2 separate regions of the Homo sapiens genome follow, and region 2 is linked to region 1. The links come from fine-mapping of genetic effects on gene expression. A gene starts in region 1. The other region holds a variant in brackets. All regions are shown on one strand. Distances are between the middles of the regions.

Region 1 (5,000 bases):
GGCCAGCCGCCCCGTCCGGGAGGGAGGTGGGGGGGTCAGCCCCCCGCCCGGCCAGCCGCCCCGTCCGGGAGGGAGGTTGGGGGGTCAGCCCCCCGCCCGGCCAGCCGCCCCGTCCGGGAGGGAGGTGGGGGGGGTCAGCCCCCCTGCCCGGCCAGCCGCCCCGTCCGGGAGGTGAGGGGCGCCTCTGCCCGGCCGCCCCTACTGGGAAGTGAGGAGCCCCTCTGCCCGGCCACCACCCCGTCTGGGAGGTGTGCCCAACAGCTCATTGAGAACGGGCCAGGATGACAATGGCGGCTTTGTGGAATAGAAAGGCGGGAAAGGTGGGGAAAAGATTGAGAAATCGGATGGTTGCCGTGTCTGTGTAGAAAGAAGTAGACATGGGAGACTTTTCATTTTGTTCTGCACTAAGAAAAATTCCTCTGCCTTGGGATCCTGTTGATCTGTGACCTTACCCCCAACCCTGTGCTCTCTGAAACATGTGCTGTGTCCACTCAGGGTTAAATGGATTAAGGGCGGTGCAAGATGTGCTTTGTTAAACAGATGCTTGAAGGCAGCATGCTCGTTAAGAGTCATCACCACTCCCTAATCTCAAGTACCCAGGGACACAAACACTGCGGAAGGCCGCAGGGTCCTCTGCCTAGGAAAACCAGAGACCTTTGTTCACTTGTTTATCTGCTGACCTTCCCTCCACTATTGTCCCATGACCCTGCCAAATCCCCCTCTGTGAGAAACACCCAAGAATTATCAATAAAAAAATAAATTAAAAAAAAAAAAAAAAAACACATATTTGCGGCTGGGTGTGGTGGCTCATGCTTGAAATCCCAGCACTCTGGGAGGCCGAGGCGGGCGGATCACCTAAGGTTGGGAGTTCGAGACCAGCCTGACCAACATGGAGAAACCCCATCTCTACTAAAACTACAAAATTAGCTGGGCGTGGTGGCGCATGACTGTAATCCCAGCTACTCAGGAGGCTGAGGCAGGAGAATCGCTTGAATCCAGGAGGCGGAGGTTGCGGTGAGCCGAGATTGTGCCATTGCACTCCAGCCTGGGCAACAATAATGAAATTTTGTCTCAAAAAAAAAACAAAAAAAACAAAAAAAACAAAAAAAACGTGTATTTGTGGCCAGTCACAGTGGCTCATGCCTGTAATCCCAGCACTTTGAGAGCCCGAGGTGGGTGGATCACCTGAGGTCAGGAGTTCGAGACCAGCCTGGCCAAAAAGGCAAAACCCCGTCTCTACTAAAAATACAAAAATTAGCCGGGCATGGTGGTGCACACCTGTAGTCCCAGCTACTAGGCAGGCTGAGGCAGGAGAATCGCTTGAATACGGCAGGCAGAGATTGCAGTGAGCCACTTACTGCGGAGGATACAGGTTAGAGAGCATTAATTTCTAATGGCCCCATTTGGTATAGTTTCATAGGAAAGCTCTGAAACTATAATGTAGAAAGGAACTAAACTGCCTCCTTTTTTTTTTTGTAAGGTTCCTGCCTATGCCGGATTTCTTACCAGAGTTTGTTAAGTCTGCTCAACAGCTAAGGGAAGAAGGCTAAGAGTAAGTTTCATTCCGCTGTCTTGGCTTTAAAAGTTTGGTTTGGACTGTAGCATTGGATATGGCCTTGTTTCCAATATATACTTCAATATTAAAAAAAAAAAACAGAAAAAGGTTTTTAAAAACATAATTATGACTCCATAATCTGCCATGGGAAAGATTGCTTTCAGTTACTTTCTATGAGAACCCTAACCTAGGCATTATCATTCTTTTTAACCTGCTCAGATTTTCAATTTATGTCAGAAAACCCATGTTAATGTCGAACCTGCCCCTGCCTCAAGAGTAACTTGGTTTAACCTCTTGGGGCTTGTTGCATCATCAGCAATAATTGTCTTGCCAATGTCACAGTCACTGAAGGAGCAAACAAGATAACAGATGCAAACGCCCTTTGAAAAGTTCACTACGTATAAGTGAACCATCACTATTATTCTCAAAGTCTTATTTACAACCTTGGATGGCTGAATGAGCATAAGATGGCCAGACTTCACTGTTCCTAGTAAGTTTTCCATAGCCTCTGCTTTAGGAGAAATAAATTTCCTCACATCCAGTCTTTGCTTTGTTGACTGCTCAACACCCTCTTGTCTCGCTTGCTTTTCTGAGAGTGACCTTGACAGCATCCCTCCAAAGAGAAGGGTATTTCCTTTATATAGACATGCAGGTGCAGTCCCACCAAAATTTATTGAACTCCAAGCTAGAACAAAAGGTGGAGGTGCACCGATGAAGAAACAGGGCCTCTGCCTTCAGGAGCTTACAAGGCCATTAACAGAGAGTGATATTGATCTTATGCAAATGGCAGTTGCCGCCTACTTGCAGAAGAGCAGGGGCTACAGCCAAGCAGCAGGGGGCAGAAGAGGCTCGAGCTCGGCTCTGGAGGCCGATCTGGCCAAAGCCAGGATAGAAGCTCCCGTGACCCATTCGTGTGTGCGACTTGGAAGGCAGCCCTTCTGCCACTCCCCTTTCTTAAAGCCCAGAGCAAATAAAAGATCCTTTTCTACTACAGTAGATATACCTGTAGTCAGGACTTTGAACTCACAGCTATTCGCCGCACCATTCCCTCTTAAGGAACTACTGCGCCCTCCAGCGGAAGAACAGCGGCGGAACTCCACAGCGGCAGCTAAAATCCCTGAACGCTTTAAAGTCCTTCTCCTCAAGATACTCGGCTGCGTCTGGCCCCGCCCCTCACTGAGTTCCGCCCCGGGCGCAACCTCATCTTATGGCACCGATTGGCTGGCCCCTGTGCGTGAGGACGTTGCGCCGTGGGGAGGGGCGGACGAGAGGTGTCCGTCAGGCCGTGTGTCCCAGGCCGTCGACCCCGCTGTCGCGCTGCGTCTGCTCCTTGCATGCCTTTAGATGGTACAGCCTTCAGCCGGGGCTTCGGGAGACAGTGCAGCCACCGAGCATCTCTGCTGAGCTTCTCCGCCGATCCTCCTTTTCTAGCAGGCAGCTCTTCTAGGCCACGTCCAGGTCGAGGGGGAAAATGGCGCCGGCGCCCCTAGGCGTCCCGGAGGAGCAGTTGCTGGGGTGTCGATCTAGAGTGCTTTCTCGGTTACTCTTCATTGCCCAGACCGCTCTCCTCCTGTTGCCCGCCGCCGGAGCAGGTCTCTGCCCCGCGCCCTGCTCCTGCCGCATTCCTCTCCTGGACTGCAGTCGCAGGAAATTGCCCGCACCGAGCTGGAGGGCGCTGTCGGGCTTGCTGCCCCCCGACACCGCTATCCTGTGAGTAGAGCGGCCAGGCAGAGTGACCAAAAGGAGGGGGAGCCTTCCCTCTACAGGGGGCAGGCAGGAGGGAGACAGGCCTGGTCGGAGGGTGTGGTCGAGAGCCTAAGCTCTGAAGGAAACTGCCGTCAGGATTTTATGAACTTTGTTTTAGGTGGTGGGAGCCTAAAAAAGCCGGTGTTAAGGTTTCTGGAGAATTGTATGAAGACGAGGGTTAAGATTCTTGGGGCCAAGGAGTCTGTGATTTCCTCAACTGGGGAGGAAATGGGGCGGGCATATTTAATGGTAAGGACTCACGGGTCCTGGGCACCAGCATTGACTTTGGATGGTTGGTGGGGCGGGGGGTGGGTTGAGCACGGAACAGTGCTTTCTGCTTATCTTGAGCTGCATGATTTGGTGTGTACCTCAGACTTAGTGGTCCTCAGGCACGTGATTTTATAATCACAATCGCCAAAGACCTATGAACTGTCTTTAGTCCTTAGTTCGCATGTTGGCTGATTTTGTGCTGCAGTTTTGATACTTAACAGGGTTGAAAAGTTCATTATGATGAATCAGGAGATCCTGTAATTCAGAATATCTTTGTAAGTAGCATTCTTGATCTAATTTAAACTTCACTGTAAAGAGGAGGAGTATTTTTTGCAGAACCATTTGATGCTTTGTTTTCAGCGCATCTTCTTGTGGCAAAGAACCCAAAAATCAGTTCTGCTTATTTATGTAGGTAAAGCAGGTACAACGGTTGAATGAATTCTGGAGTTTCCACTGTTGAGTTTTCACTTTGACAGGTCTTTATTAGACAGTGGAACTTGGAGGGCTCCTTAGTCTGAGTCAGCCTGGTGGTATTAGGAACAACAGCAGGTATTAAATGCTGCAATTATGGGGCTTCTTAACCACTAACATACAGTTATTTCTCGTCACTAACTGAGCAGCACGTTTATTAACTGACAGATTTCTGATGGAGTCGTTAAGAAAGAGTCATCAATGGGCCAGGCGCGGTGGCTCACGCCTGTAATCCCAGCACTTTGGGAGGCCGAGGCGGGCCGATCACGAGGTCAAGAGATCGAGACCATCCTGGCCAACATGGTGAAACCCCGTCTCTACTAAAAATACAAAAAAATTAGCTGGGTGTGGTGGTGTGCGCCTGTAGTCCCAGCTACTCGGGAGGCTGAGGCAGGAGAATCGCTTGAACCCGGGAGGTGGAGGTTGCAGTGAGCTGAGATCACGCCACTGCACTCCAGCCTGAAAACAGAGCGAGACTCCGTCTGGGGGGAGGGAGGGTCGGGGAGGAAGAGGGGCCGGGTGCGGTGGCTCACGCTTGTAATCCCAGCACTCTGGGAGGCTGAGGCGGGCTGATCACCTAAGGTTGGGAGTTCGAGACCAACCTGACCAACATGGAGAAACCCCATCTCTACTAAAAATGCAAAGTTAGCTGGGTGTGGTGGCGCGTGCCTGTAATACTAGCTACACCCTGAGGCAGGAGAATCACTTGAACCCGGGAGGGCGAGGTTGGAGTGAGCCGAGATCGTGCCATTGCACTCCAGCCTGGGCAACAAGAGTGAAACTCTGTCTCAAAAAAAAAAAGAGTCATCACTAAAAAAATAGGTTGAAGTGCAATTAAAATATGAGAGGCTGCTTGGATTTTTATTGGAAATAGAATACAAATAAGAGGTGTTGCGGAGTTTAAGAAGTATTTATATATTTGCAAATAGGTTAGCACAGATAGGAAAGAAAGCTACCT
Region 2 (5,523 bases), 32 kb after region 1:
ACTGCTTTGTTCTAACTTACCTTTTTTGTTGTTCTTGAAAAGCATATCGAATTTACAGTTTTAATAGGTCCAACAATAAAATTATGTTCATATTTTTCTTTTTAAAGAGAGAGTTAGGAGGCAGATCATAATAGACCATGAGGAATTAGGATTTTTGCTTTCTTGTATGCATTAGGAAACTGGAGGGTTTTGAGAAAATGCTCAGCACAGAGCTTGGCACAGAGTAGAAGCTGAGTAATGTTAACAATAAAAACTAAAATTAAAATGTTATGAAAATCATCATAGTTATTTTCTGCCAGATTTTTAAAGTAGATATTTTGATCTGTTGAGATATTTTGAGTTATTTCTCATAGGCTTAGTTTAATTATAAGTTGTGACTTACTACAAATTAGTATACTCCGCCCCCCTCCTTTTTTTTTGCCAGTGATAACCTGAGAGCTGGCAAGAAAGTTTTAACTGTTACAAGAACTCAGTTTAACATAAAATTTAAACAGTAGGTCAAAGCAAATATTGCAGTCTCAATCTTCAGAGAGTCATTTAGTAATTTGAGAGTTGTCACAAAGATTCTTTGCTTGACCAACCCGTAGGCAAGCCCTTAAACCTTCTCCTAGGCCTAGCTGTGTAAAATCCAATTTTAGCACAAACCCTGTAAAACCAGTTTAGCAAGAACTCTTCCTCATTGTAGACCATTCCCAGGTGATGTCTGATCACCCTGGCCTGTCTTCAGCAAGAATCCTGTTAGGGTTTAGCCAGAGTCTTCCTTACTCTGGATGTTATTTTTTAGTAATTTCACATCCACTGAGTGGGATGAAAGCAAACCCACCTTGCTCCTTGGCTATACTTGCCCTTGCTGTTTCCCTACTGTCTCTCCCTCACTGAGTCGAACCCAGTCTCTCTCCCCAGCTGCAACATCACATTGCCGTGGTCCCTATATCTATTGAGATGATCCTGAATAACGTCTACCTTACCATGCTTTAACAAGTATCACTGAGTAATTTTTTATTTAACAGTTACGGTGCTGTGACTCCGATAGGATCAGATTCATCATTGGACCCCCAGACCTCTCACCCAGGACCCCAAGTGTGCACCTTTGAAGCCATTGTCTTCACTCCTGACTGATAGATCGGGGATCCAATGGTGAGTCAGACTAACGAACCATTGCTCCGGACAAACATCTGTTGAAGCTGGTAAGGAAAGATTTCGATTCTCAAGATTGTGAATATATTCTCTGGAGTTGGGCTAGAGGCCAGACTTCTTTTGAAAGGTACCTCCTGGGCTTGAAGGTCTTCTTCCTGGCTCTCTTTCCTGAGTGGGGTTTATTCCCTGACTCCCTGGACTAAAAGTCCTTGGAACTCTGTGAGGCTACTCTGTTGTCTCTAATGGATCCTACTTCTCCCATGGCAATTTCTCTGGCATCTGAATCCCCTCTGTTTGAGCCCCTGCTAACTATATTGCTCCACCACTGGTTCTGTCCACCTCCTCCTTGTTGGACCTTTATTGGCCTGTTTGGAATACTTAAGATCTCCCCAGACTGCATCCTGTAAGCTGTCTTTCTTCCCATTGCTACTGCTCCTTATTCCTCCTCTTACCACCTTTAATGTTCCTTCCAGTTCCCTTGAGCCCTTTGATATGACTCCCTTCAAATTCTTACATCCTCCATCCATCTGTCCACCCACTGCTAGACTTTTTCCTTCTCATTCTGGACTCTTTGTCACTGGGACTGTAGGCCCCCCACCCTTCCTGGGGATCTCTCAGGGGACTTGGGGACTCCCAAAAGTAATGACTTGGGTTGAAAAGGAAAAAGAACAATTGGAAATAGCCTAAGTATTTTATCTACACTCAGATGGGCTTTGGAGATATCCAGACAGCCCCTAGATGTCTCTTCAGCCTCCATGAGATTACACATCATGGCAAAATAAAAGTCTTTTTTTTTTTTTGAGATGGAGTCTCCCTCTGTCACATAGGCTGGAGTGCAGTGGCACGATCTCAGCTCACTGCAGCCTCTGCCTTCCGGGTTCAAGCAGTTCTGCCTCAGCCTCCTGAATAGCTGGGATTACAGGCACCCACCACCACACCCAGCTAATTTTTGTATCTTTAGAAAAGAGGAGTGACCTCATCCAATTTATGTTTTCTTAGGTATAATATAAGCTGGACTCAAAAGACCTGGGCCCATATCCTAACTCTACCATTTATTTTAGACGTGATACTGAATGCCTCCAAAATCTCAGTTTCCATTTCTAGAAAATGGAATTGAAAATGCCTACCTCAACCGGGCACGATGGCTCATGTCTGTAATCCCAGTACTTTGGGAGGCCGAGGCGGGCAGATCACGAGGTCATGAGTTCGAGACCAGCCTGGCCAATATGGTGAAACCCTGTCTCTACTAAAAATACAAAAATTAACCAGGCGTGGTGGCATGTGCCTGTAATCCCAGCTACTCAGGTGGCTGAGGCAGGAGAATTGCTTGAACCTGGGAGGTGGAGGTTGCGGTGAGCTGAGATCTCACCACTGCACTCCAGCCTGGGTGACAGAGCAAGACTCTGTCTCAAAAAATAAATAAATAAATAAATAAAGTATTTAGCCCCGTGCCTGGCCACAGACAAAACTTAATTCACAGTAGCTTCCTTCACTTCTGTGTCTTTTGCTTCTTTCCATTCTTCATATACTAACCAAATCCTGAGCACAAGTACTTAACAGA[G/A]TATACGGTATTCTCTCAACAAATGTGTGGATAGATTATACTAAAATATTGCTAGTGGTTGTCTTTGAGTAGTGAGGATTTGAGGAGCTTTCTCTCCCTCTTGGTTTAGTGGTACTTTCTAATTTTCTACTATAATTATATAACTTTAATGGAAAGTATTTTAAAATTTATATGCAAGTTTTTCATACACCTCCTGTTATTGATGCAAAGCCTTGTGGGGAATACCAAAAAGTATAGAGGGATTTTAATAAATGTTGACCTAAAAAGTATTATAAATATGACTTTTAAAGTAACCAAAAGCAACCAACAATTCTCAGTAAAAAAGTTGCATTAGAGCCAGGTGTGGTGGCTCATGCCTGTAATCCCAGATACTCAGAAAGCTCAGGTGGGAGGATCCTCTGAGTCCAGGAGTTAGAGACCAGTCTGGGCAACACAGCAAGTTCCTGTCTCAAAACACAGTTGCGTTAAAGTTCCTGCAATAGCAGTTTGTTCAAACCAACTGTTAGAGAAAAAATTACTCAATGAAACTTGTTAAAGCATTATAAAAGCATAGTAATCTTTGCCAGTGCCCCTCTTGTTTAATAACAATATGTCAACTTTGAACAGTTGAACAATGTAAGTCAATTTTTTTCATTCTTAAAATTGAAACTTTGCCAGGCATGGTGGCTCACGCCTGTAATCCCAGCACTCTGGGAGGCCAAGGCAGGTGGATCACGAGGTCAAGAGATCAAGACCATCCTGGCCAATATGGTGAAACCCCGTCTCTACTAAAAATACAAAAATGAGCTGGGCATGGTGGCACGCACCTGTAGTCCCAGCTACTTGGGAGGCTGAGGCAGGAGAATCGCTTGAACCCGGGAGGCGGAGGTTGCAGTGGGCCGAGATTGCGCCACTGCACTCCAGCCTGGGCAACAGAGCGAGACTCTGTCTCAAAAAAAAAAAAAGAGTTAAAATTGAAATTTCTGTGGAATCAGATCTTAGATACTTTATGCCAAACATTAAACTTGATAAGGATTTGATCATGCACATAAAGCAAGTTCTCAAAATCATTTACTTTCCCTGCTTCTAAGTGGATGGGACATTTAAGGGGTCATTGAGAGAAAATACTGATTTTTCAGATATGTTTTACAGGGTTATAAACCACAAATACTTTTTCAGTGCTCTTAGTTTAGATTGCATTACACATTGCACGGTGTTGAAGTGGGTTTTCTTTTTGTTTTGTTTTTGGGAGACAGTCTCACTCTGTTGCCCAGGCTGATGTGCAGTGGCGTGATCTCGGCTCACTGCAACTTCTGCCTCCCGGGTTCAAGCAGTTCTCCTGCCTCAGCCTACCAAGTAGCTGGGATTATAGGTGCCATCCACCACGCCCAGCTAATTTTTGTATTTTTAGTAGAGATAGGGTTTCGCCATGTTGGCCAGGCTGGTCTGGAACTCCTGACCACAGGTGATCCGCCCGCCTCTGCCTCCCAAAGTGCTAGGATTACAGGTGTGAGCCACTGAGCCTGGCCTAGTGCTGAAGTGTTTTTAGTGTTGATGAAATAATTTGACAATAATTATATGTTGTCTACAACAAAGATCTCTCAATGCTCCAATATATAGTAAGTGTTTCCCCATACTTTCATGGGAAAAATTTAAACCTCAAAAATTTAAAGGAAGGTACAATTAACACCCCATACCCTTTATCTAGATTCACCAATTGTTAACTTTTTGCTGAATTTGTTCTATTTCCCTCCCTCCTCCTCTCTCATTTTATCTCTTGCTCTCTCTCCACATACACACAAATATATATATACATATATGCACAGTTTTTTTGCTGACCATTTAAAAGTTGCAGCCATGGTGACACTTCACCTCTAAATATCTCAGCATGTATTTTTTAAGAACAAGTACATTTTCTAACGAAGACATCACCATTACCACACCCAAAGAAATTAACATCGATAAGGTAATATTAACTAATACAGAGTCCATACTCAAATTTCCCCAATGTTAAAAAAAGTCATTTGCAGATTTTTTTTTCAATCAAGGATCACACATTTCATTTTATTGTAATGATTCTTTAGTCGTCTTCAAAACAGATCCCTGGCCACCCTTCTTCCCCTCTCTTTTTTTAGTGTCTTTCATGAGGTTGATATATTTAAAGAATTTTGGCTGACAGTCTCAATTTGTTTTCTCATGATTTATGTTAAATGTTTTTGGCAAGAATAATGGATAGGTGTGTGGTAAGGTTTTAATACTGAAGACGTTTAGAATGAAAAGTAAAACAAAGGATGCTTTTCCTCTTTTCTTTCCTGCAGGATTCTGAACACAAGCAGTTTGCTCTGTGACTGCCATTTGAAGTGGCTACTTCAATGGTTGGTTGATAATAACTTTCAACATTCTGTGAATGTAAGCTGTGCACACCCTGAATGGCTAGCAGGGCAAAGCATCCTGAATGTGGATCTGAAAGATTTTGTCTGTGGTTTGTATTTTTGTTTTAAAATTTTATATATTACACACTTATAATCTTAACAGAATTAAAAAAATTAAACCAGAATGGTTTTCCACTAGGAATTTTTGTAATCATACAGTTTTAATTGCCATTAAAAATGATCACAGGCATTTTAATGAATGAAGGCTTTTCTCTTTTAGAGGGACTGTTAACCTTAGGTTAGGTATTTGGTAGTCAGATTCCTGAATCAAGCAATATGAGTTTTTTTATATGAACATTTTTAGTAGATCTTGAAAAGTGCCACCAGGTACTTTCCAAAAAGATAGCACTAGTTTAAAGTTGTCACCAGCAATGTATGAATATACTGATTCTGTGTGTTTCATATTTTTTGTGT

Which allele goes with the higher level. Positions count from the first base shown, and alleles are read on the strand shown. Sizes are in standard deviations (SD) of each study's normalised expression.
As copies of A replace G in region 2, the expression in tibial nerve of the gene that starts at base 2,818 in region 1 goes up (moderate effect, 0.69 SD a copy in GTEx).

Evidence for each region. PIP is the estimated chance that this variant, and not a neighbour inherited with it, causes the effect. A credible set is the group of variants that fine-mapping cannot tell apart.
Region 2: its variant is the best candidate, but not a certain one, in a credible set for the expression of LRIG2 in tibial nerve (GTEx, PIP 0.83).

The regions. Positions count from the first base shown.
Region 1 is chr1:113,070,381-113,075,380 of GRCh38, forward strand. LRIG2 (leucine rich repeats and immunoglobulin like domains 2) reads left to right here and starts at 2,818. Exons shown (of 18, transcript NM_014813.3): 1 at 2,818-3,265. The coding sequence starts at 3,027. LRIG2-DT (LRIG2 divergent transcript) reads right to left here and starts at 2,722. Exons shown (of 3, transcript NR_103777.1): 1 at 2,559-2,722. RefSeq lists enhancers at 2,289-2,538, 2,597-3,130, 2,789-3,098, 3,131-3,662, 3,279-3,338 and 1 more.
Region 2 is chr1:113,102,599-113,108,121 of GRCh38, forward strand. It overlaps LRIG2 (leucine rich repeats and immunoglobulin like domains 2), which reads left to right. Exons shown (of 18, transcript NM_014813.3): 12 at 4,996-5,159. Among named protein-coding and RNA genes, the nearest start is that of LRIG2, 32 kb to the left of the region's middle. The variant G/A (reference allele first, on the strand shown) is at 2,699.